Linked DNA regions of Homo sapiens: regions 2, 3 and 4 are each linked to region 1. The links come from fine-mapping of genetic effects on gene expression. A gene starts in region 1. Each other region holds a variant in brackets. All regions are shown on one strand. Distances are from middle to middle. Region 1 holds the start of RAB3IP (RAB3A interacting protein). Region 2 overlaps RAB3IP (RAB3A interacting protein). Region 3 overlaps RAB3IP (RAB3A interacting protein). Region 4 overlaps BEST3 (bestrophin 3).

The links. PIP is the estimated chance that this variant, and not a neighbour inherited with it, causes the effect.
Region 2: its variant is fine-mapped to the expression of RAB3IP in testis (GTEx, PIP above 0.99).
Region 3: its variant is fine-mapped to the expression of RAB3IP in subcutaneous fat (GTEx, PIP above 0.99).
Region 4: its variant is fine-mapped to the expression of RAB3IP in fibroblasts (GTEx, PIP above 0.99).

Annotation. Positions count from the first base shown.
Region 1 is chr12:69,735,207-69,743,257 of GRCh38, reverse strand. RAB3IP (RAB3A interacting protein) reads right to left here and starts at 4,398. Exons shown (of 11, transcript NM_022456.5): 1 at 4,227-4,398. LOC101928002 (a long non-coding RNA gene) reads left to right here and starts at 4,708. Exons shown (of 4, transcript NR_110072.2): 1 at 4,708-4,980. RefSeq lists a silencer at 3,821-4,650.
Region 2 is chr12:69,809,298-69,815,822 of GRCh38, reverse strand. It overlaps RAB3IP (RAB3A interacting protein), which reads right to left. Exons shown (of 11, transcript NM_022456.5): 9 at 2,946-3,045; 10 at 2,790-2,859; 11 at 1-459. The coding sequence ends at 377. Among named protein-coding and RNA genes, the nearest start is that of MYRFL, 13 kb to the left of the region's middle. The variant G/A (reference allele first, on the strand shown) is at 2,248.
Region 3 is chr12:69,797,383-69,805,433 of GRCh38, reverse strand. RAB3IP (RAB3A interacting protein) reads right to left here. Exons shown (of 11, transcript NM_022456.5): 7 at 5,097-5,225; 8 at 3,713-3,825. Among named protein-coding and RNA genes, the nearest start is that of MYRFL, 24 kb to the left of the region's middle. The variant T/A (reference allele first, on the strand shown) is at 3,696.
Region 4 is chr12:69,687,092-69,692,091 of GRCh38, reverse strand. The region is part of intron 4 of BEST3 (bestrophin 3); the gene reads left to right. It overlaps LOC105369823 (a long non-coding RNA gene), which reads right to left. Exons shown (of 5, transcript XR_007063358.1): 4 at 3,497-3,551; 5 at 3,016-3,391. Among named protein-coding and RNA genes, the nearest start is that of BEST3, 9.7 kb to the left of the region's middle. RefSeq lists enhancers at 1,872-2,440, 2,567-3,766. The variant A/G (reference allele first, on the strand shown) is at 2,790.

The sequences.
Region 1 (8,051 bases):
TGACAACCAGATGCTCCCAAACAAATATTCAATACTATTACTTTTATCTGGGCATATCAAATTACAATTCACTTATTTAAGTGGTTCTAAGCTATCATCTATATGCTCCTTTATGCTCATAGGGCATTCTCACATTCTTGAATAGTTTCTTCATACTAAGCTGTCAATTCATATACTTATTTGTGTATGTATCCATACCCCTCAGAGGAATTTCATCAACTGCCATTATGATTATATTTACAATCCTACTGTTAACGACAAGCATCAAATCTTTCATGAACTTGAACTATTTGAATAATTTTCATTCTTTTTCCTCTAAGTAATATCAGTTTACGGCTATAGTTATCTAATTTCGTGTTGCCCTATATTCTAAGATAAATCAGATTACTTTTTCCACTTTTCTCTAACCATGACTATGTACGATGTAAGCTTATAAAACTACCTCATTTAGTGGTAAGTTGAAAAGGAAAGCAGAAGGGAAAATAGAGATAGCAAGTTAATGCTCCCAGTTGTATAAATATCTTCCTCTTCCTTCCTTTGTCCCTTCATTTCTCAATGTTCATTTCAATTTCTACTGCTAGAGCAGCTTCAAAACATCCTAACATTCTTCAACTGATCATCCATCACCAAACACAGCACAGTACTTACCTGGCCCGATGTTAAAGCTATAAAATGAGGTAAGCCCTACTCTCGAAGCACTTGTAGACTAGAGGAAGAGACCACCTTGCCAATAAACATGTTTCTAGGGCCCTAGAAACAATTACAAATACAACACAAATATCAAAGTTCATAAATACCAAAAAAGAGGTACTCAGTATTATAAAAGCATAAAATTTTTAAAAAGAGTACCATCTGGTACAACTAAGGATAGTAGCATAAAAAAGGAGAAACAAGCTAGAAAGCAGTTTACAAAAGCTCAGATATTTTGTTTTTAGGATATCAAATGCGTAGTAACCAATTTACTATCCTTTGATGAACTGCATCTTAATCAGAATTATATCGGAAAAAAGTTTAGTGTGAAAAAGCGTACTCCCTTGGAATATCTTCAAAGCTTTCCCTCATTACCTCAATGCACAAATATCTCTACCCACTATCCATCTGTCCTTCCTCTCCACTACTCAACTATCCTAGCACTTTGTCTTAGTTGACATTCATTAAAATATGTAAAGTGCGTTCTACATTTTGAAGAACTTATAAAAGATATGGGAATGATTATAAGGCCCTACCTTCCATATTCCTTAAGAACAGTTTCCTTTAACCCCTACTGTGACTTGCAGAGTAGATGCTCAATGAGTATTTGATTTAAAAAAATCTCTGGTGACACAATGAGAATTACATATTACATTAACATTACGTATCTCATAAAAGCTAAATTACAAAGTTCTTCAGCATTATAAGCTACACATAAAGAAGTGATAATGTAGTGATTATGAGCAAACAATTCTTTAGCATTACCACTTATACATGAAGAAATGACAGAGTGTAGTGGTTAAGAGCACAGACATGGAAGACAAACTGTCTGACATCTAATCTAGACCTGTCACTTAATTAACTATGTGACGTTGAGCAAACTACATAAGGTCTCAGGGTCTCAATTTTCTCAACTACAAAATAGGGATAAAGTATTATCTCCTCGCTCACTCTGAGAGTAAATGAGTATAAAGCTTACACCAGGACTTCGCTTGATAAGCACTAGACTTAAAAGTAACTGTAGTAGCAATGCTGGTATCACCGTCTTCAGAAAACTTGGATATTTTTAAACCAGAAATACAAATGGTAACACTTGTCATCTGTGTGCCTCCTTATAGTTACAAAGCTCTTTAATAGAAGGTGCAGACCAGGAATGTAAGAAACAAAAGCACTACGTTCCATTTTGGGCAGTCGGATACAGTTTTTAATACCGGCTCTGTCACTGGCCAGCTGTACGACCACCTACAACTAAGTAACCATAGACAAATTATCGCAACTTTCTAAGCCTCCATTTCCTGACTTGTAAAATTTGATAAACCACCTATATCCCGGGAATGTCCAGAGGACTGAGGAGTCAAGGTATCGAAAACAAGCACACACAGTGCCTTGCACACAATCAAGCTCACACTGGTTCCTTCTCCCCTTCCCCACATCTCTAATGGAGTATGTTATTAAATCCTCATCTTACCATTATGAAGTTCATATTAGGTTGAAACATAAAAAACAGCAGAATATTAGCAATTTCAACCTAATAGTATTTCCACTGACAAATGGAGAAAATAAGCTCAAACAGGTTAAATGTTTTACTCAAGGTTTTATGCACAGTAAGTGATGGAGCTGAACATTAAATAATTTTTCATTCAGCCAGCTCACTAATTTGTTCACTGACTCCTGTTGAGGAGGAAAAAAGTATAGTAACTACTATAATGCATATAAAACTACTGTAATCTACAAAGTATTTTTTCGTGCCATATTTAAAAAATGAGGGGGTGAAACATTTCTAAGAACCTTTCCATTTTAAAAATTATTTGTAGAGGATGTGTGTGTTGGGGGAGGATGAGAGTTTAGACAAAATCAAAGGTAAAGAATATTAAAGGAAACATATGGATAACTGCACTAATTCAAAAAGTACAATAGGATCTATTCAGAAATCCCACAAAGCAGCTAAACATTAAATGGCCATCCTGGTGAAAGATTACAAGTATTCAGTACCACAGATGAGTTGTTTACCAAACACAGAAGGAAGAGTTGTATCAAACACTTTGGTTCACAAAGGTATACATTAATATGTAACATTACTGTAATGGAAAAAAATGCAATGGCTTTTCATTTAATAGTTAAAAAATGGACTACTTAATTGTATAACTGTTTATTTCTATAAATTCCACAAGGGCTTTAGGATTAGATCACATAAGCCGCATCTGGAATACACTGTCTGTCCAAACATGAAAAGTCCTATCAAAATGCACAGTACTAGTAAATAAATAACAAATGATAACAGAACAAGGCCCCATAAAACTGGTGAAATATTTAACAGTATCAAATATTTACTACGATTGGTCTACAACCCTATTCTGCCTCTTTTCTCCTTGATTTGTCATTCAGCACTGGAAGAAAAAAAAACCTTCATGAACAACAAAATGAGAAAAAGGATAATGAACAAGAACTGGGTCTTTCAACTGATTTACAATGGAACAGTTTTGTTGTAATCCTCTTATGGGCCCCTCCTCCAATTATGCAATCATTCCACTGCAAGAGATTACAAGGCTTTTAACCCGACACTGAACGGAAGGAGTTGGGGTGAAACAGGAGAGTGTATAACAGGTAGCCTCCGAACAGGCAACATTTCCATGAAACTAAATTGCCTCTCAGTAATCAGTACTAACTAACTCAGCGCTCGTGTCTTTCAAGACCTTACCCTTTCATCTTTTTTAATCCCATAACAACCGGCAACTCTTCACATGCTGCGACTTCCACCCAGCATCATCACTTCTGGAGCCAGTAAGCTCGCGCTTCCTGGGCGGTCGGGGCGAGTTGTCAACGCTGGGAGGGCAGAGCCATGCAATCCCACCCGTGCAGTTCGTCTCAACTCCCCCGAACACAAGTCTGGCGGCACGGAGCTGCCTACTTGGGCGCGACTCCGGGCGCCTGCCCGGAATTTCCCACCAGGTTTCACCGAAACCTCCCGAGGGTGACCTCTACGCCTCAGCACGGTGCCTCGCGCGTAGTTTCCTAAGACTGGGACACGAAACCACCCCAGGTCCACAGCCCTGCCGCGCGGCGTCCGGTGTTGTGAGCTGCTTCCGACTTGTTCGGGAACTCTCTCTTCATCCTCTTCGCGACCGCGGCCCTCCGCTCCCGGCCGCGCCCGCCCGCCGCCAGGTAACCCGCTGGACTCGGGCTCCCTGCCCCGGGCGCGCGGGACCGCGCAGTTAATGTGTAACGCGCCCGTGCCCGGGGGAGGAGCCGCCGCCCGACGCCCACCAGCAGCCCAGGGGGCGGCCGGCTGACCCGGGTCGCCAAAGTCCCCCCCACACGCCGCCCCCAAGGGCCCGGAGCCCAAGTGCCCAGGCGGAGAGCGAGCTCACCGGGCCTGGGCATCCCCCCGAACCCCCGCGTGCCGCGCCCTGCACGGCGCCAGCACCTGCACCTGCCGCGGCCGCCCCTCCTGGCCGACTCGCCAGAGGCGGGCGCGCGGGCGCCGAGGGGGGCGGTGCTCTACGCTCCGGGCCTCTCCCTCCCGCGGCCGCACTCACCTGAAGAACCCACCGCGGCCGCTGCCGGCGCTCAGGGGCGCTCACAGAGCCGCAGAGAGCGCGTCCCGAAGCAGCGAGAAACGGAGGAGGACGGCGAGCCCTTTCCGCTACACTCCACGGCGGCGGGCTCACTACGCCGGCAGCCGCCGAGGGAACGCGGGACTGCGCCTGCGCCGGAAGCGGGGCCGGGGGCCGGGAGCCGGGAGCGGCCGGTCCTCACGGAGGGAGGGCGGGGTAGGGGGGTGTGGCCGGCAGGGGCGGGGCGAGCCCGGCATGGGGCCTGGGGGCGGACGCGCTTCCGCGCCCCCTGGCGCCAGGCGGGGCTCGTCGCAGGTGTCACGGCCCTGGCCCGAGGTTCCTCCGCGGGCGGTTTCCCTGGGAACCAGCGCGAGCCGGAGCTGCGCTCTGTTTCGTCGGGCCCGCGCTCTGTTTCGTCGGGCCCGCGCTCTGTTTCGCCGGGCCCGAGAGGCGGCCTCAGGTTAACTTCAAGCATGTTGGGCTCTCCAGGAGGGAGAAGAGGCACCTTTGCCGTGGGTTGAGGACTCCTAGAACCAACCTGAGACTCCGCGGCCATATACACCTTACGACGTGTGTGTGTGTGGCGGGAGATGGGAGGGGAGGAATCCTGTAGAACCCAGATCCCATCATTCCAGCAACTGCCAGAGCGTTCGAGAATGTCATGTCTGTACCTGTCTTCTCTCATCTTTTGTGCCAACTGTTTTATCAAACTTCTACCCCACTTTAGGTCTTCCAGGTAGGAAAAATACAGAAAGAGCCAAGATCCCAAAAATCAAAAAAAAATAATAATAATAGAGGTAGTCATAGTATGTGTCTCTATGTTTAGCAAAAGAGAAACGTGCATTTGTGTGATACACTTATTGAATAGGACCATCATTCTGGGTATTAATCTCATCTATTAGAGGCAGTAAAGAAAAGTAGACTATATGTATGGTTGTTGGAGTCAGAATTACTGGGCTTGAGCCTGCCACCTGCTAGCTGAGTGACCTTAGGCAAATGAATCTCTCTAGCCCCAATTTTCTCATCAGTGAATGAGTATACAGAACCTGCCTCACTGAGTCATTAAGAGTTTAAATGGCTTAATTCATGTAAACACTTTGCGTACTTCATGACACAGAGTGCCTAATAAATATTAGCTATTGTTATTATACCATTATAACTATTATCATGCATCTGTAATCCAGAAACCTAGAAAGCCAGTGTTTCTTATTTTATACCCCATCGCCAATATATCACCAAGTCTTATTCATCCTAATTTCTAAATAATTCTTAAATCTATCTTATCTGATATTCATTGCCACTAGAAATGACCTTTCTCATTAATGGATTCCTATTCTCCCTTACACCTCATAGCTGGTCATTTATTCATCAGACATTTTATTGCACTCCATCTGTGTGCCTCCTGTTAGACATAGGGACAGAGAAACCATTACAAAGTCCCCACCATCCACGGACTCAAACATATATAGGGAGACAAGTATGTCAATAGTAGCTACGTGAAATGAATAAATTAAATATACAGCAAACCACTTAGGCTCCCCAGTCTTGCCGTACTCACATACAACCCTGTATTTCCATATGCTGTTTATTTTTATGTCTTGATCTCCTACCTTTTCCTTGCCTTGCTAATTATTTGTTATTCATTATTTAGCCTAGACATCAATTCCACTGTGAACCCTTCCCTATTGTTGGCCACTCAGCCCTATCCCAGCCACTCCAGTATGGGCTAAGTGCCCCTACCAGGGCTTCCATAACACCGTATCTCTTTGTAACACTTATCACATAGAGTTATAATTGTATCTGTATTTCTCCATTTTCCTGGACTGCGAGCTTCTTGAGAACAGGCACAAGGTCTGACATGCAGTAGGACTGACTCAGTAAATGCAGAATGAGTGAATGGCATGCATGCAGAGTGCAGTCTTGGTATGTGAATGTTTAGAGGACAAGTCCTATGATATATTCTACATAAGACCTAAGACATCATGATCTATAGGAAATAGTAAGCAGTAACCATATATGCCTGAGTCCTGCGTTGGTCCATTTACAAATCACCTACCATCCATGAGGCTTTTTGAAATATACTGAAAGATGTTCCTCTTGAATACTTAACCTGTTAGCGCTGTTTGAGAAGAGTGATATAGATTGTTACCTATAATAATACTTCAGTGTTCTTGCAGCACAGAGACCAAGATACATTACAGAATATTAGACACTCAGAATCTCAGCCTACAAAGTATGTAAAGGGCTGTGAGCATCTTAAGTTTGATAGCTTACCCATATATAAAAAGGACAGCTATTTCACAAAATTTAAAAATGTGAAAGATTTGGATGGGCACGGTGGCTCATGCCTGTAATCCCAGCACTTTGGGAAGCCAAGGTGGGCAGATCCTTGAGGTAAGGAGTTCGAGACCAGCCTGGCCAACGTGGTGAATCCCCATCTCTACCAAAAAAAAAAAAAAAAATCAGCTGTGCATGGTGGCACACACCTGTAGTCCCAGCTACTTGGAAGGCTGAGGTGGGAGAATCACTTGAACCCGGGAGGCGGAGGCTGCAGTGAGCCGAAATCACGCCACTGCACTCCAGCCTGGGCGACAGAGTGACACCCTGTCTCAAAAGAACAAAACAAAAGGCCGCACGCGGTGGCTCACACCTGTAATCACAGCACTTTGGGAGGCTGAGGTGGGCAGATCACCTGAGGTCAGGAGTTCAAGACTAGTCTGGCCAACATGGTGAAACCCCATTTCTACCAAAAACATAAAAAATTAGTCGGGCATGGTGGCTGGCACCTGTAATCCCAGCTACTCGGGAGGCTGAGGCAGGAGAATCACTTGAACCTTGAATCACTTGAACTCGGGAGGCAGAGGTTGCAGTGAGCCGATCGCGCCATTGCACTCCAGCCTGGGTGACAAGAGTGAGACTCCATCTCAAAAAAAAAAAAAAAAGAGTGAAAGATTTTATAGTGTGCTCAAGGTTGCCTTTTTCTCTTTATTTTTTTCTCTTTATTTTTTAAAAATGTAAATTATACAATTAGTGTCAAATATAACGTATAAAATAATATTGCTTTTTTTTTATCTTAAGACTTTCTCATTTATACCTTGGGCCAGAAAAAAAGCAGATGAGTGCAAATATATAGACATTGTAAATTGAACAAACCATTCTAAGGTTGTTACCCTTAGTTATAACTTTTATTACTTGTTTGCCTCTGTTTTGTTTTCAGAGTTAAGAAAATGTATTTTCATGGTATTTTCCAGTTGCAAACTGACTTCATGTTAATGATTACATGAGTCTTGTACAAAAAACAATTTGATGCAGGTGGAAAGGTAGTTATTCTTCATTTTTGTGGATGGGGAGCTTAGGCCACCAGAGTTAGGGCCCTGGTGTTTGGAATGCAGGTTAATATCTTATAAACGAATGAAGTGAAAACATATTGAACTTTTGTGTCCAGTAGTATGGCAGACTAGAGGCTCTGGCTGATTCTCAAACCCAAAGCAATATATATAAATATATATAAAACATCTTATCAAGCATATCAAAGAGTTGGCAAGAATATAAGAAACCCTGAAGGGCAAAAACTAGGTGTAAGTGAGAACTCAGACTGGTAAATAGTAACAATGCAAAAATGAAATGGAAAAAAAAGACAGTTATGGGAAAAATGTACCAAAAGTAATTAATCTATCATTTCCTTGTCTGCCAAAATAGTCAGTGAGTGCCAGTGCTTGTGTTCTCATAAAAACTGACTTTTGCAACTCCTGTAAAAAAGCAGAGCAATCTCAAAAGTGTCTGTCATGATATTAATTATGGACAATC
Region 2 (6,525 bases), 73 kb before region 1:
AAGGAAGGAAGCTACTGTGTAGTTTGAAAATTACTATTTAATACATTCTGCTAACCCTAAATGCCATGTCAGAGCTAGAAGAGAAAATGTACACACATTCAATCTAACATTTATTTATTTCAGGTTTTTTTTTTTTTTGGCAACTATAAATTACATTCACTAGTACACCTGGAATTCTTCATAGTGTGTTCAACTAAAGAATAAGCAAACACAGCATAGATCAGTTTAAAAGAAATCATGGTACTTCTTAGAGCAATTTGCAAAAGGGGAAAAAAGTCTTAGGCTCACTCCTTGGAAATAAATATCAAGTAACCATAAAAATATTCAGCCATTTTTCAGTTATTCGGGGAGTTCAGGCATGGTCCCACGCAGAGCATCAGAGTTCCTCTTTGAAATAACCCAGCTTTGCCAATGACATCTCTTTTCTCAACTGCATAACCTCCCAAAACATCTGATCAACTATACAAACAGAAAAGAGAGATATTTAAATCATAAAATACCATCTTCATTATTTTTAATGTTTCGCTGAAAACCTTAGCTGAAATGTCAATTGTGCATTTCCTAAAGATGTACCTACATTTTTTCAATAATTCACATAAACTTTTCCACAGACTTGTGACCATCCCAGTTTTATCAATAAAGCAAAAGTCACCAGTTTTGTCACAATTATTTGTTAAATACATCAGAGACTATCATTTTAGCCCAAGAAAAGGTAGACATTCAGCATCCTGAGTAAATGTCAATGCTGTTACCTTCATTAAGTGAATATACTCAATACTCAATTATTCGAGCTATTCTCTAACTTACGAATCTTCTTGCTCTAGTTTGTTATATCGCGGCCATTTTACTCTTCATTAACACTACCAGAGGGTGAAGGGCAAAAAAAGAAAACAAGACAATCCAGAAAACTCAGTAACGTTGTGAGAAGTAACAGAAAGGTTTTGTGTATGGCTCAAATTAGAAATAAAAATGCATGTGGAAGATGAATTGTAAATTCAATTACCTATACTTTTGTAAGTTCCCACTGTAAGTGGAAAAACGTTGGCTCCTTATTTCAGACAATAAAAGGTCTTCGTTTGATATATGATCAGATTATATTCATTTAGATCAATGGTTCTCAATCAGGGAAGATTCCACCACTACCACCACCACCACTCCTCATTCCCTGGCCACTCCAGGGTACGTTTGGCAATGAATAGAAACATTTTTCACTGTCCCATCTCGGGGGTGCTACAGGTATCTAATGAGTAAAAGCTAGGGATGCTATTAAACATCTTACAAATGCACAAGACCGTCCCCCACAACAAAGAATTATCCAGCTCAAAATGTCACTAGTACCAAGGTCGAGAAATTCTGCTTTAGATTTAGCTGCCCTAAATCCTTTGTTGGCACAAGGCACATATAATAAACAGATTTTAAGACTAATACCTGTTTACAACAAACACACATACTAAATGATATGTACTAAATATCATAAAGTGGAAGAGTGACAGAAACCAGAGAAGATATACTACTTTTATTATCAACACCCTCACCATTCATTACTCGTAACACTTTCTTCCTATTTTCATAAAGTAAATTATCTTTCTGTCTTTCCAAGCTTCTTATTTAAACAAACAGAAAAATATTATATTCTTGGCAATTATACTTAACATAAATTTTCTGTTCTCTGGCTTAAATTATATTATCCATCAACAGGTATTCAAAAAGAATTCAGTTTTATTAAAGTCAAAAAAAGTATTACACAGTTTAAAGACTGTTTTTATGTTATTAGGCCTTTTGAAATTCAACATTAATTAGGTTATCAGGTTATTAGGTTAACAGGTTTTATCTCTAATGTTTTAGGCATTAAAATCCAACTATATGGGATTTTAAAGAAATATGACATTTTTCAACATACCAGACCTTGAGAAAGGCTAAACTAAGTTTTTATCAGCGTGACTAACTTCTCCATAGAATTAAGATTCACTGCTTTACATGATTGAAAGATGGTAGGCTTCTACCAGTGTTTAAGCAAGATAATATTTTCAGTGCCTAAAAAATATAAACAGGGAAATTTTGTAAAACTTTAAATACTAACTGGCACAGACTTGTCCCTAGCCTAGTATCTGCTATTTTTTTTTTTAAACTATCATTTGTGCTCGAGAGATACTGCTTTGGAGCTGTCAGGCCATATTAGTTTTCATGCCTGATATTTAAGATATTTAGCTATAAAATTGTATTAAAAATATTAACACACTTTCATGA[G/A]GTTGGTTCTCCTGGATATATCACCTGCACATTTCTGCTGATTTAGAATATGGCAATCTTTATTCCATTCAGAATTATCCTCATGACTGCTTTATTAATTCACACGCAAAAAGTAGAAAATACAGGGAAAACTTAATTTTGAGCTCCATGATGGTTTCCATCAATTAAAATAAATCTGACCACTTTGCTGGCCTACTCATTTTCATCTCTTAAAGAGTCAATTCAATGAGCTTAGAACTCTCTTCTCATTTACCATCTGGTTTATCATATACCCCTTATGAGTTAAAACTGACCCTGCTTAAAATTCAAAATTAAGAGTAAAATGAGGCAAATAAAATAATTAAACACAATATTTTTCTAAAAGACATTTGTTCCCAAATTCTCCACAAATTTTATTAGAACTATAGAAGGGATTCAATATAAATGTACCAACAATAAAGCTGATATGAGCATTACTACTATTCTATACTTTTTGTTGAACTTTACTTATACTTTTTGCTGAACTTTTATGTAAAGACTTATATTGAATCAAGAACACTCACCATCCTGCTGTTTCACGAGTCCCTGCTGAATGTATCGAATGTATGTAAAAAAGTTACATACAGAAGTGATCTAGGCCAAATGGAGAAAATGTCATGAATGGTCAAATGTCCCATATCAAAGCAAGCTTTATTAAAATTCATGGTTAAGTCACTTACCCTGTATCTGCAAAAAGGAGAAATATAATAATAGTTGCTTGAGTCCCCTAATTTAATTCTGTGTTTACAGGACTTACTCTGGCCAGTGAGAGCACATTTTCTGTGAAATAATGATAAATTTCAGTTTTTTGAAATGAAAAGCATTTGCCCCTACCTTCTGTACAAGTTGCCTATTCATTCAGTTAGATAACAAATATTTGAGAACCTACTGTGTACCAGGCACCGTTCTAGATGCTGGGCTAAAGTGATGAAAAGGACAAAGTCTCTGCCCTTGTGAGACTTACATTCTATTAGTAGTATAAGTTTAATGCCATAACATTAACCATGATTCTAGAAACAGAAACTAGGTGTTTTCCATGTATGTCCCATCTTGGAACAAATTTACAAATCAGTAATCAGCTGCAGGACAGCTCTCAGCTTTCCATCAGGATTTCAGCTTCTCAGCTGAAAATATCCTCATGATGACTGTTCAAGTCTCAAAGCATGTTATTGATAGCTTGCAGGGTAATAGTTTCCAGATGGGGTATTTGTTTATTTGGTTGGTTGGTTGCTCTATATGCATTTAATGTGGGACCTAGGGAGAAGTACAAAGGAATAAGCCACCTTATAAAAATACTGAATCTTAACAATCATGTAACAAGTTCACTGAATTTCACATGATCCTTTCTATTTGCATATGACAAAAGCTAAAATTTTATATGAGGGCTTTCTGGCTGGGATTAGGCTATCAACCTCTTGAGGGCAGGGACTTTGATTCATCTTTAAATGCCTGGCACACAGCACACATTCAATGACTGCTGAATAAGTAATGAGCCATCTGTTACCCTATGGCTCCATGAGATAAAGCTAGCATGTCTATCAGGCCGGACTTGCAGCAGCCCAGCTGTCACCCTAAGCTAGGAACCTGGCTCAATACAACTATCACTCCCCATCAATGCAAAATTAGCATAGCTCTAAGTAAGTGGCAAACAGCATTTTATATGACAGTATAAATTATATAGTAAATATATTAAATAACATTACATTTTAGCGATACAAGAAATATAATACAAAAGTGCCTTTGTATTAAGAAAACACACAACAATGTGTATTTGAAACAGGATAATTTTTGAGGAGGGGGCAATTCAAATCACAAATCAATTCCTGTCTTTTTTCAAATAGATATTTCTTCATTGTTTCTTTATTAGCAAATTCCTTTAATGATCTGTAACAATATTTAAAAGCACTAACTACTAGCTTGGGGAGGATAGAAGATACAGAAATTTAAAGCACAAAGTGTTGGAAGTCTGTGGAACTTCCAAAAGTATAATTTGCATAAGAGGAAAATGTGCCATTAAGCTGCTAAAAACCAATTTATACACTATTCTTCTGGAAACAGACATATGCCTGCTGGTCTACTGTTTAGCCTAATTTTGAAAGGGATCTGGTAAGGTGGCTTTAAGTATCAACTTTTAAAATAATAAGTGTTTCTTTTTTTTAACTTGTAAGTTCAGGAGTACAACTGCAGGGTGTGCAGGTTTATTACATAGGTAAACATGTGTCATGCGGGTTTGTTGTATATATTATTTCATCACCCTGGGTGATTCAGGAAGAATAAGTATCCATTATTCTTCCTGATCTTCTCCCTCTTCCCATCCTCCACCCTTCCACAAGCGGCAGTGTGTGTTGTTCCCTTCTATGTGTCCATGTGTTCTCATCATTTAGCTCCCACTTATAAGGGAGAACAGGCAGCATGTGGTTTTCTGCTCCTACATTAGGTTGCTAAGGATAACGGCCTCCAGCTCCAGCCATGTCCCTGCAAAGGACATGATCTCATTCTTTTTTATGGCTGTATAGTATTCCATGGTGTATAGCGTTTCTTAAAAGATCTCATTTCTAAGCTATTTTGTAAACTGGACACACCTAATGTATTTTTAGTTAAGCCAGGATTCAATGCAAACAGACCTCTGACCTCCAACTCCATTTTTTTCCCAAACATGCTACACTACATTAATAAATCTCTATAACTCTAGTCCCAAGATTTCAAATCCTTGTTTCCCATTTTCATGTGAGGATGTCAATATGTCTAAATCTAGACCGTAATCCTCTTCCACAAATCAAAGCCTTTTCCATTAATTTCCACAATCACTTCAAATCAGTCTTCCAGTCAGATATCTCTAACTCCTTTCTCCTTTACCCATCCCCCCACCCCAATCTAACTTTTCTTTCTTAAAATGTCACATCTTCCCTTTCCTCTCCATACACTGACCATCCTTTGAACGCACTTTGATTTGTTTCTAGGCCTTCAGTTGTTATGTATTGCTCTTTATCCAAATTACCCTTATGCTTCAAAAACCTAAACCAGTTTTTATTTCTGGAGGGTGGAGCCAAGATGGCCGAATAGGAACAGCTCCAGTCTACAGCTCCCAGCGTGAGCCACACAGAAGACGGGTGATTTCTGCATTTCCAGCTAAGCTTTGAAGAGAGCAGTGGTTCTCCCAGCACGCAGCTTGAGATCTGAGAACAGGCAGACTGCCTCCTCAAGTGGCTCCCTGACCCCCGAGTAGCCTAACTGGGAGGCACCCCCCAGTAGGGGCGGACTGACACCTCACACTGCCGGGTACTCCTCTGAGACAAAACTTCCAGAGGAACGATCAGGCAGCAGCATTTGCGGTTCAGCACTATCTGCTGTTCTGCAGCCACCACTGCTGATACCTAGGCAAACAGGGTCCGGAGTGGACCTCCAGTAAACTCCAACAGACCTGCAGCTGAGGGTCCTGACTGTTAGAAGGAAAACTAACAAACAGAAAGGACATCTGCACCAAAAACCCATCTGTACGTCACCATCATCAAAGAACAAAGGTAGATAAAACCACAAAGATGGGGAAAAAACAGAGCAGAAAAACCGGAAACTCTAAAAATCAGAGCGCCTCTCCTCCTCCAAAGGAACGCAGCTCCTCACCAGCAACGGAACAAAGCTGGATGGAGAATGACTTTGACGAGTTGAGAGAGAAAGGCTTCAGAAGATCAAACTCTCTGAGCTAAAGGAGGAAGTTCGAACCAATGGCAAAGAAGTTAAAAACCTTGAAAAAAATTAGACGAATGGATAACTAGAATAACCCATGCAGAGAAGTCCTTAAAGGACCTGATGGAGCTGAAAACCATGGCATGAGAACTACGTGACGAATGCACAAGCCTCAGTAACCGATGCAATCAACTGGAAGAAAGGGTATCAGTGATGGAAGACAAAATGAATGAAATGAAGCGTGAAGAGAAGTTTAGAGAAAAAAGAATAAAAAGAAATGAACAAAGCCTGCAAGAAATATGGGACTATGTGAAAAGACCAAATTTACGTCTGATTGGTGTACCTGAAAGTGACGGGGAGAATGGAACCAAGTTGGAAAACACTCTGCAGGATATTATCCAGGAGAACTTCCCCAATCTAGCAAGGCAGGCCAACATTCAAATTCAGGAAATACAGAGAATGCTACAAAGATACTCCTCGAGCAGAGCAACTCCAAGACACATAATTGTCAGATTCACCAAAGTTGAAATAAAGGAAAAAATGTTAAGGGCAGCCAGAGAGAAAGGTCGGGTTACC
Region 3 (8,051 bases), 62 kb before region 1:
GACATGATTGTACACATAGAAAACCCCATCGTCTCAGCCCAAAATCTCCTTAAGCTGATAAGCAACTTCAGCAAAGTCTCAGGATACAAAATCAATGTACAAAAATCACAAGCATTCTTATACACCAATAACAGACAAACAGAGAGCCAAATCATGAGTGAACTCCCATTCACAACTGCTTCAAAGAGAATAAAATACCTAGGAATCCAATTTACAAGGGATGTGAAGGACCTCTTCAAGGAGAACTACAAACCACTGCTCAATGAAATAAAAGAGGATACAAACAAATGGAAGAACATTCAATGCTCATGGGTAGGAAGACTCAATATTGTGAAAATGGCCATACTGCCCAAGGTAATTTATAGATTCAATGCCATCCCCATCAAGCTACCAACAACTTTCTTCACAGAATTGGAAAAAACTACTTTAAAGTTCATATGGAACCAAAAAAGAGCCTACATTGCCAAGTCAATCCTAAGCCAAAAGAACAAAGCTGGAGGCATCACGCTACCTGACTTCAAACTATACTACAAGGCTACAGTAAACAAAACAGCATGGTACTGGTACCAAAACAGAGATATAGACCAATGGAACAGAACAGAGCCCTCAGAAATAATGCCGCATATCTACAACTATCTGATCTTTGACAAACCTGACAAAAACAAGCAATGGGGAAAGGATTCCCTATTTAATAAATGGTGCTGGGAAAACTGGCTAGCCATATGTAGAAAGCTGAAACTGGATCCCTTCCTTACACCTTATACAAAAATTAATTCAAGATGGATTAAAGACTTAAATGTTAGACCTAAAACTATAAAAACCCTAGAAGAAAACCTACGCAATACCATTCAGGACATAGGCATGGACAAGGACTTCATGTCTAAAACACCAAAAGCAATGGCAACAAAAGCCAAAATTGACAAATGGGATCTAATTAAACTAAAGAGCTTCTGCACAACAAAAGAAACCACCATCAGAGTGAACAGGCAACCTACAGAATGGGAGAAAATTTTTGCAACCTACTCATCTGACAAAGGGCTAGTATCCAGAATCTACAATGAACTCAAACAAATTTACAAGAAAAAAACAACCCCATCAAAAAGTGGGCAAAGGATATGAACAGACATTTGTCAAAAGAAGACATTTATGTAGCCAAAACACACATGAAAAAATGCTCATCATCACTGGCCATCAGAGAAATGCAAATCAAAACCAAAATGAGATACCATCTCACACCAGTTAGAATGGCGATCATTAAACAGTCAGGAAACAACAGGTGCTGGAGAGGATGTAGAGAAATAGGAACACTTTTACACTGTTGGTGGGACTGTAAACTAGTTCAACCATTGTGGAAGTCAGTGTGGCGATTCCTCAGGGATCTAGAACTAGAAATACCATTTGACCCAGCCATCCCATTACTGGGTATATACCCAAAGGACTATAAATCATGCTGCTATAAAGACACATGCACATGTATGTTTATTGCGGCACTATTCGCAATAGCAAAGACTTGGAACCAACCCAAATGTCCAACAATGACAGACTGGATTAAGAAAATGTGGCACATATACACCATGGAATACTATGTAGCCATAAAAAATGATGAGTTCATGTCCTTTGTAGGGACATGGATGAAGCTGGAAACCATCATTCTCAGCAAACTATCGCAAGGACAAAAAAACCAAACACCGCACATTCTCACTCATAGGTGGGAACTGAACAATGAGAACATATGGACACAGGAAGGGGAACATCACACACCGGGGACTGTTGTGGGGTTGGGGGAGTGGGGAGGGATAGCATTAGGAGATATACCTAATGCTAAATGATGAGTTAATGGGTGCAGCACACCAACATGGCCCATGTATACATATGTAACAAACCTGCATGTTGTGCACATGTACCTTAAAACTTAAAGTATAATAATAATAATAAAAAAATTAAAAAAAAAACTTAAACCAAATCTCTCTTCCTTCAAGAAGAGTACCTAATCATAGTTTGAATGATCTTGTCTTCCTCAAAATTCCTACAGTGCTGTGCCACTCACTTAGTCATTATCTTCACACTCTAGCTCACAAGAACCACGGCCAAAGCCACACTTCACATTTCATAAAGGAAGACAGTATCTTCCTTTAGTTTTTTCCACGATATGCATCACCTTGGTTTCTGGCCCCATTCCCACAAGCACAATATCCTTAAACTTTGTAAACTGTTCTCTAAATCTAAACTATAATTATTTTACTAAAGATACTATAAATCCACTTTAATTTGATATCCCCATTTGTTATCATTTGATGATATCTGCACATATATATGTGATATATAATGCAAGCACAAATTTTAAATTCTACAATAAAAACAGTTATATGCTATATTTAAAATGAGGCATGACACAGACCTTAAAAATAAGAAAACTGCTATGATTAAATTTAACTCTCCATATTTGGGGTGGAAGGATCAGAACAAAAATACTTGGGTATTTGTAGAATTTAAGAATGTAAATTCTTTCCCTAAAATTCAGAGGCCACCGTGCTACACGTGTGGCTTGAGGGAGCGAGGTGGACGTGTGGCTCACAGAGCAAACATATGACTAGGAACCCTCCAACAAATGGTCACCTAAACAACAACATTCTGTAATCTTGCTGAGACCGTAACGTGCGTAACAGGGAATAGAAACAAGCACACAATTCCTACAACAGCTTTAACACAGACCTATTAGTTCATCTCAACCAGTCTTTTCCTCTTCTGGCTTCAAAATAACCCTGACAGCAGTCAGTTATGCTTTCTATGAGCTCTCTCAGTCTTTCCAGTCCCCTATATTGATCTGGCTCTAAGCACTTAATAAGCATCTTTCTCAAAAGCTTTCCAAGTCATTTTTTAAACAGAAGCCAAGACACAATTATGCCACGGTTTTAGGCAAAACCTTTCGTCTTTGCTAGATGTTTTAAGCACTGTTGGTTTCAGTCATTCCTCCTTATAGGACTGGATGGAAAACAAGTCTGCCCTGCTATGAAATGTGGGAGTCTTATCTCTGAAGATTTGTAATTCTCAAGTAAGACTCACATATGAAAGACAAAACTGATTATTTATTTAAGTGAGAATCCTTTATAAACACAATATGAAAAGAGAGATCTCATCAAGTCTTTTTGGTACACAGTTTTCATGATCGATAAGACTTAGTCTAACTCAGTACCTTCCCAAACTATTTTTGATGGTCACCCTCAGAGAGAAGTATTTTATACAGAAACCCAGGACACATGGCTACACATATACGTGTAATAAAAAAAATTCTACTTATGACCCACTAAACTGATTTCACAATCCACTAATAGGTCACAATATGAGGTTAAAAACAAAAACAAAAACAACTCCGGTTTCTATCTCTAGTTTACCTGGATCTCTATCATATATGTATATTACTGTATTGGGTTGGTGCAAAAGTAATTGTGCTTGTTGCCATTACTTTCAATGGCAACAAGCACGATTACTTTTGCACCAACCTATAATTAAAAGGGCTCTCCTTTAATGCTAAATCTGAAATACTATATTCCACACTGTCTCAGGAATTTGTCTTTGGGCTAGGCTACACAGACGCTTAAGAGAAATCTGAGGGAAATATAACTACATTTAAAACCAGAAAAACTAAATAACTGCAACCCATAACATTTCAAAAACTCAGTCACTTTCACAGTTCA[T/A]GCACGTAAAAACCTACTTTGGTCCTCCGCATTCAACTGCAGAAGCTTTCACAAACCGGATAGGTTGTAATCCCACTGGTTCAATGCTTAGAGTATTGTTTTCCACAGCCTCCAGAACAGCTGAAGCCAACTTAAAAAAAAAGAAAAAGTACTAGATGCTATACTGGCAGAAAAATATCAAAATTGTATTCTACAGTAAACGAATTTTATAAATTATTCTTCTCCAAAGTTCCACTAGCTTGGCTTTAGCAAATGAAAAAGGAAGAAATCAGATAATTTTGGTTTGATTTATTTTATAATCCAAACACTGTTATGAAAGGCAATTCACTTATGGTAAAATAACTTTCCTCATTATCTGGACGAGGATTCAAGGCATCAATTCCAGTCTCTGTTCACTCCTTACCCACGATTAATATCCACAGTTAATGCCACTTCAAAATGAATATCCTAAAGCTTTATTCTGCTAAATATATACAATATTTTTAAACATTGGTCATTTATACCACAGCAATATATATTAATTAGCTGCATATTTTCTGAATTTGTATTTATGTGCACAAGAGTGAGTCTACAAAAGAATTAGCTGAATTATCAAATATTAAATGCCCAGATGAAGACGGTAGCAACTAACACCAGATGAAACAGGAAAACCTCTTTAGTCTGGCAAGGTTACTAATACTGAATGGCCTACCTGAAACCAGATACAGAGCCACAATGAACAAGATATATTCATACCAAAAGTGTGAAAAATGTTCATCTTAACTTCTCCTGGTAAGCAACGTTATAATTAAATGCTTGAAAGACTTAACATAAAACTCTTAGGATTAAATTTCTTATACTTTAATTGACCGGATATTTGTAGACAAACCTTTCACATGTAAGAACAAATTAAAATTACAGCTTTAAATTTTTATACTGCCTTATTTTTCTAAGGTTTTTGCATCTACTTAATCCACTTCATTTTATCCTTTTAACAATCCTGTGGCACAGGCAAAGAAGGCATTACTTTTCCTGTTTTAAAGATAAAAAATTAGATTTTTAAATCATGTACAGATAGACACAACAAATGCCTTTAACAGAGTGTGTAGAGAACTTCCCTTACACTGAACCTTGGACTGCAAATCAAGAAATAAGTCCTATCCCCCATACCTATTTAATACCTGACACCAATGCAGTACACATTTGAGTGTGAATGATCCTCTGCTCATATAAGAAAAGATGTTCAGTAACTGAATGCCAAGAAATTATCATGATTCTAGTACGGAATGGCAAAAATAGCAAAACATGACATTTTATAATAACTTATTTATGTAAGAGATATTAAAATATGTAATATGATTTAGTTTAAAAGAAGTACAGAAACAACTATAATGAATTCCTACTAAAATGAAAAAAAATTACCTCACTTTTTGAGAATGTTAAACATGGAAAGATATCTTCCTGGTAGATTTTGTCTAAGAAAGGACACGTCCTGTCCATTGTGGGCTCATCCTTCCACAATCGGAATTCATTATACAAGGATAAGTCAGCCTAACAAACCAAAGGAAAACACAAAAACATGTTTTAAAACGTATAAACATAAAAACCGCTTTACAAAACCAAAACTAATTTAAACATCACTGAAAAAAAGCTCTTCATTTAAAATAATAAATTGAACCACTCTTGGTGGTTCAATACCTGGTAGCAGTTTTCCTTTTTAAAAAATACTCTCAAATAATACCTGGTAGCATAATACCTGGTAGCAGTTTTCCTTTTTAAAAAATGACTCTCAAATAACCAATTAGCCTTTTTCCAAGCATCATTCACTACCATGTTCAATAACACTACTATTATCCTCACTCTGAGCTCCTTCTCCCATCCCCACCAAAAATGCTGGAGTTCCTCTTAAGACACAGGTGGCACACTATTCAGAATATAATAAATGATGACAAGTCTTTTCTGAAAACAATAAAAAGGTAATTTGGAACCTAATTAATTATAGTGTCTGAATAAACTGAGACTGGCTGAACTGTGAAACCTAGTTTGGGATCAAAAATGACACTAATTGTTCTACTATAACTTGAAGGCATTCCAAAAAGAATTGTCAAAATGTTATTGCATAACCAACAGGATTAAAAAAAAAGAATACGTAAAGCCTTCTAAACTACCTTAAAATACAACATTTATTTAGATATTTTTGACATATTTTTGGCACCCAGTAACTACCATCTTAGGCATCAATAATAATCCACTGCTGGCACCTGCCTTCCTATTCACTCCTCCAGCTATCCCTCTCTTTCTCACCTCCCTAATAAATTTTCCCCAAGTATTCTTCCCTACAGATTCTCAGATTCCCTCAGTCCAGCTCAATAGCATCTGCTGGAATACAAAGTTGCACTGACATCAGCCACCCAAACTAGAGCAGTCTCCCCCATCCTACAGCTCTAAGCTGCTCTTCTCCAGAGGCACTGGATACACCATAAATGATGCACTGACTACAGCTACAGACTGCCTCTAGGATAGCTCAATCAGATGTGCAAGTAGTCTACAAAAATGTAACATAGAGCTGAGTGTAGCCAAGCCTTCCTACAGACTTCCTTTTAAGGTGTATAAGGGCAATCTCCATGTGAATATTTTTTTCAGCCCAATTCATAAATTCCTTGAATCAAAGCAAAAGCAACAGGATAAATAATATTAGCATATAAGCAATACTTACATTTTCAAATGCATTTTCTTTGTAAAGTTACTGAGAAAAAGGACACTTCCTCAATTCCATTTATCTTCTAAATAAGACTCTTTAATCTTTGTTCCTAATTCACTTACCTCCTGGCTCTAATAAGAGATGTCACATCTCCAATTTAACAGTCTGTTTAATATTAACTTCTCAAATGTATTTGTTCCCAACATATATTGATTTATATGAGCACACACTAATGACCTAAGTCTGTTACTCTTTCTTAAGAAAGATGCAAATTTATTCCCTATTTAATAAATGGTGCTGGGAAAACTGGCTAGCCCTATGTAGAAAGCTGAAATTGGATCCCTTCCTTATACCTTATACAAAAATCAATTCAAGATGGATTAAAGACTTAAATGTTAGACCTAAAACCATAAAAACCCTAGAAGAAAACCTATGCAATACCATTCAGGACATAGGCATGGGCAAGGACTTCATGTCTAAAACACCAAAAGCAATGGCAACAAAAGACAAAATTGACAAATGGGATCTAATTAAACTAAAGAGCCTCTGCACAGCAAAAGAAACTACCATCAGAGTGAACAGGCAACCTACAAAATGGGAGAAAATTTTCGCAACCTACTCATCTGACAAAGGGCTAATATCCAGAATCTACAATGAACTCAAACAAATTTACAAGAAAAAAACAAACAACCCCATCAAAAAGTGGGCGAAGGACATGAACAGACACTTCTCAAACGAAGACATTTATGCAGCCAAAAAACACATGAAAAAATGCTCACCATCACTGGCCATCAGAGAAATGCAAATCAAAACCACAATGAGATACCATCTCACACCAGTTACAATGGCAATCATTAAAAAGTCAGGAAACAACAGGTGCTGGAGAGGATGTAGAGGAATAGGAACACTTTTACACTGTTGGTGGGACTGTAAACTAGTTCAACCATTGTGGAAGTCAGTGTGGTGATTCCTCAGGGACCTAGAACTAGAAATACCATTTGACCCAGCCATCCCATTACTGGGTATATACCCAAAGGACTATAAATCATGCTGCTATAAAGACACACGCACACGTATGTTTATTGCGGCATTATTCACAATAGCAAAGACGTGGAACCAACCCAAATGTCCAACAATGATAGACTGGATTAAGAAAATGTGGCACATATACACCATGGAATACTATGTAGCCATAAAAAATGATGAGTTCATGTCCTTTGTAGGGACATGGATGAAACTGGAAATCATCATTCTCAGTAAACTATCGCAAGAACAAAAAACCAAACACCATATATTCTCACTCATAGGTGGGAATTGAACAAGGAGAACACATGGACACAGGAAGGGGAACATCACACTCTGGGGACTGTTGTGGGGTGGGGGGATGGGGTAGGGATAGCATTGGGAGATATACCTAATGCTAGATGACGAGTTAGTGGGTGCAGGGCACCAGCATGGCACATGTATACATCTGTAACTAACCTGCACATTGTGCACATGTACCCTAAAACTTAAAGTATAACAATAATTAAAAAAAAAAGAAAGATGCAAATTTATTAAAAAAAAAAAAAAAAAAAAAAAGAAAGAAAAGAAAAAGGACATAAACCCCAAAGCAGGTAAGTGGTATTCTAAGGAAAGATTCTAGTTTAAAGGCTGTAATTTAAACCATTTATTAA
Region 4 (5,000 bases), 50 kb after region 1:
ATTTGAGAAGAAAGAACTCCAGTTTGAGGCATACACACAGACCAGATGGTATTCAGTATGTCCAAAATACAAAGAGAAGGTTGGAGGTTTTATAAAAAGACAGAAATGTTACATATTGCTCTTTGAGAAAGTTCATTGGCACTAGTAAGTTTCTGGGGAGCTGGCAAGTTTTGACTGGTGAGTGATGGAGGTGGGTAAAATTAGTCTTCAAGTTGCAGCAGATCATTTCAGCAACTATAAAACTGGTTTCAGGTAATAGCAGGCAGTTTCAGCAACCAGGCCTGCAAAGAATATTTTTTTTGAGACAGAGTCTTGCTCTGTGGCCAGGCTGGAGTGAAGTGGCGCTATCTTGGCTCACTGCAATCTCTGCCTCCTGGGTTCAAGCGATTCCCCTGCCTCAGACTCCCGAGCAGCTGGGACTACAGGCGCACACCACCACGCCTGGCTAATTTTTTGTATTTTAGTAGAGACAGGGTTTCACCATGTTGGCAGGATGGTCTCAATCTCTTGACCTTGTGATCCGCCCACCTCGGCCTCCCAAAGTGCTGGGATTACAGGCGTGAACCACCATGCCTGGCCTCAACTGCTTTTTCCTGGTGGCTTCTTGACTCTGTTTTAGTTGGGTACGACAAGAATGACCCAATTATGTTATCAAATTTCACAATGATTAAGAACACGGAGTAAGGGTTTGAAACTTTATCTCACAGCTTACTAGCTACATGACTTTGTCTGAGTTAGTTAACCATTCTGTTCCTCAGTTTCCTTATCCATAAAATGGACTTAAAGTAACTTATAATAGCACCTACCTCATATATCCCATAGGCTTGTTATGAGGATTAAAAAAGTTAGCATTTGCAAAATGTTTAGAGCATTCCTGGCACACAGTAAGTGCTGCATAATTTCTTGCCATTGTAATGAAATTACATCTCAAACAACAGCATAACATAGCACAGTAGCCACTTTAGAAGACTTGTTATTAATATAATATCCCAGGTCTTTTTTATCTACTTTGATCAAGAGGTTGTGAATGTCAAGGTTGAAATAAGGAAGAAGGGTGTAGATGATGTTGTTAGAGACGCAGAGTGAGATATGAGAAAGTAATGGGTGCCAGGAGTTGGTTAAGGGGGATTCAGGGGGAGGGTCTGAAGGCCTGGCACATGTACAGGTATATGATAATGTAAAATCAGTAGGAACTTTAAAAAAAAATTAATTGCCATCCTTCCTCCAAATATGAAAGTAGAATACTGTTTCAGAATGACCTAGTTAAAAATGCTACTAGACAGCTCAATTTTATCTTACCTTAATGTCTCCAGGAACAAATAGATTAAGAATTACCGTCTCTAAGAAAGACCTAAAAACAAACAAGAAACGTATGACCTATTCCAAGTTGATGAGCTAAAGTTTACTTGGATGAACAGAGGTGATATTTCTCTAGTTCTGACGCATCCTTGAAATGAAGAGAGTGCATTCTGACAGGAATCAGATGCCGGGTCCAATCCTCAAAGCAAATCTCATCTTCTTAGTGTCACCTTCATATTAAAAGCACACCAGGAAGAAGCCAGGTTGGCTGGCAATGGAGAGGCCTCTGGGGCCTCTGGTCAGACATGAGCTCCGAGGACTGAGCTGTGCTCAGGTCTGAGGGGCAAGTAGATATAGGGAGGCAAATAGGAAAATGACGTGATTTCATTTCCTTTGAGTGTATTTTTCAGAATACAAAGGCCCACTCCCTCTCAAAATTGTACAGATGTCTGCCATGTACTTGCATTCAGACTTTTCCCTTTCCGAGGCATGTGGAATACTGAAATACTTCTATCTGCTCAGCTACCAATGTTTCTGCCATTCCAAGGGAATCTCAAAATGAGTCCTTCACTTCTGGATGTACATTTAAACTAGTCTCTAGGAGTGATCCACAGACCCACAGGCCCTCTACATCTTGAATAACTTGAGTTTATTTATTTAAAATGCATATTCCTGGGTCCCACCCACGTCAGTCCCTCTGAATTATTATAGAACCTAATAGAACCTTTGGATGTACGGCCTAGGAATCTGCAGTGAAACATGCTCCTGTGTTGGTTTTTTTAGTACCCCAAAGTTTGAGAAGTATTGCATCTTTTCTGGGATGCTTATTTTTTAAACCCTTTTTCTCACTCCTGGGGCAAAAGGCTTTGGCAACCACCAACTCATTACTGATAACAAAGCAGCAGCAATTAAGAAAGGATGGATTCGAGGTTTCAGCTTGAGGGTCATGAATTACAAAGAAGAGCTTTGAGGAAGCAGTCTGGTGGGAGGCTACTGTATAAGGGATCTGAATTCCACCTGCTTGGATGTAACAAGCATTGTTCTGACTTAAACTTTTTGGTTGGTTTGTCTGAAGCGGATGAAGGGAGAAGAGAATTGACAGAGGAGCTGTGATGAGGTGAAAGCCTTTCCAAGGGTCCTGTGACACAATCACTGATTATCTCAGTGAAAAGGTCCCAGTTGCTCTCATTAATTCCTAAGTATTTTCTCAAAAGGCAGAAAAGAGGTAGTAGGTACATCTTGTCCCCACAGGAATATATTGTGCTTCTGGTAAGTAATTTTGAAGATAACTACTTTCTTCTCTTGGTGCTTGTAAATACTGGATAAGATGTTTTGATTCAGTATAAGACCATACTATACGCAAGCATTGTGTGTTAGGCGGCAGGGCAAAGGTTCCAAGCCACTATCCTCTAAGCCAGGAGAGACGCTTCGGAGGCCTGTCTTCCTGGCTGCCCCAGGCCGGCACCCGCTGTCACCGGCAGCGCTGACTC[A/G]CTGAACTTCCTGCTGCTTTCCCCAGCAGAGAGGGCTGACTCAGAGTCTGCACATGGGGTCTGCTTCCAAGTTCTTCCAACTGGGCATATGCCTCCGCCACTCTCTGACTGTCCTTTGCCTGTGCCAAGGTTTCTGGGAAGAACAGGAAGTTCAGGGATGGCGGAAAATGTTTGGCAGATTCCCTGAGTCCAAAGCCGGAGCACCTGCTCCTGCCTGAGGGCAGAGAGGACTGGTAAGTAAAGCACTGAGGGCCCCAAAGGGGTGGGGACAAGGTTAAGGGCACGAGGGACCTTCTTGTCAGTTGAATTCTCTACATAAAATCACCTGTAAGAAAAAGTACATGTTCTCAAACTTCAGGGTGCATTACATATTGTTAAAATCAATATTGCTAAAAATTTGGATCCCACGATACCACTCCCAGAGATTCTGACTCAGTAGGTCTGGAATGGGCTCCAGGAATCAATGAGTTGAACAAACTCCTGGAGACTCTGAGGCTGGTGGTCCCTGGCTTGTGCTCTGGGAAGCAATGGGCTTTGAGGCAATCAGTTTCCCTCCAGCTTCTCTTTCTTCTGCAAGGGTTTTTGCCTCCATAGATTCAGTGCTGGCCAGAAGGAAATAAGCGAGAGGGCCAAGAGTGAGGACCAGCACCTCCTTCTGAAGCATCTGGCAATTTCTTGGCTGGCGCTGGTTGAACTAGGTCACATACCTGCTCATCCTTGAACTTCTCTTGCTTTTAAGTTGGACAGTCAAGTTACATTATTCTGAAAAATAACAAGACCAAAACACATGCTGCTGGGGAAATATATATAATTTGATGCTACAGGTTAAATTTCTCAAATTAAAAATAAAAAAGTTTTTGTTTCTGCTTATATGAAAATAAAAATACAACAGTGGAATTCGGAATAATGTCTATTATGCTGAAAAGTCCCTGAACTGGTCTGTGATCAGTTATTTATCAGAGAAACTGCAACAGTCTCTGTTACTTTTGCCTATTGGCTACAAATCTGCTCTGGAAAATTCCAGTCATTCCAATCACCTGCCCTGGGAGATGTCATTCATTCCAAGTCAAGTCAGATGCACAATTCCAGATCCTGGCTGAGTCAAGTGATGACCTTAGTTGTGTGCATATAGTATGGTCTCATACTGAATCAAAACATCTTATCTAGTATTTACAAGCATCAGGAGAGGAAAGTAGTTATCTTCAAAATTACTTACCAGAAGCACAATGATATGTAATAGGAAATTATATACATTCCTCTTAAAGAAACATTACCAAGCTGGTGCTAGAACTATTACGCCTTTGCTCATGCAACAAAGGTTTATTGTGTGTACAATATATGCCAGGCACTGTGCTGGGCACTGGGACTACCCTTATAAGCAGAACAAATATGGTCCCCATACTCAAGGATTAGTAAAATTTACTACAAATCTTATCTTAAATTAATCATTGTCATAAACAAGCACAAATATATTTACAGTTAAACTTTACATCTCTGCATTGCAATTCTCTCTCTCTAAAATAAATAGTTTCTGTCTGTATTTAGTAGTTCATAAGAGTAGTTATAAGACAGTAACCTCTGAGGAAAAAAACACCCTTTAATTTTCTTAAAGCCTTGGAGTCTTTTTTTTTTTTTTTTTGAGACACGTTCTCACTCAGTTGCCCAACCTGGAGTGCAGTAGCACGGTCATAGCTTACAGTAACCTCAAACTTCTGGGCTCAAGCCATCCTCCTGCCTCAGCCTTTTGAGCAACTAGGACTACAGATGTGCGCCGCTGTGCCTGGCCAATTTACTTATTTATTTGTTTAATCCCTTTTTTTCCTTTTTTTCTTTTTTGATACAGAGTCTCACTATGTTGCCTATGCTGGTCTTGAACTCCTGGCCTCAAGCAATCTTCCCACCATAGCCTCCCAAAGGGCTGGGATTTCTGGTGTGAGCCACCACACCTGGCCTGCCCTGGAATCTTAATGTAAAGATTCTTGACTGTCTTCTATGACTACAGGGAGCCTGATGAGACTCCACTGGAATTTTCAGTGACACTTATGGTTAACAGACATTAATATAACCAAGCAAGCCACCAGCTGTCAATGGATGTTGAGATAAAAGTTCTAACTTCAGATGCTCTGGCTCTAAGTCTAGCCCTATAAATGGAACTCAGGTCTGGGTCACTTACTGCTTAAAAGCCAAACAACTCAGGAACTTTGGTAAAAG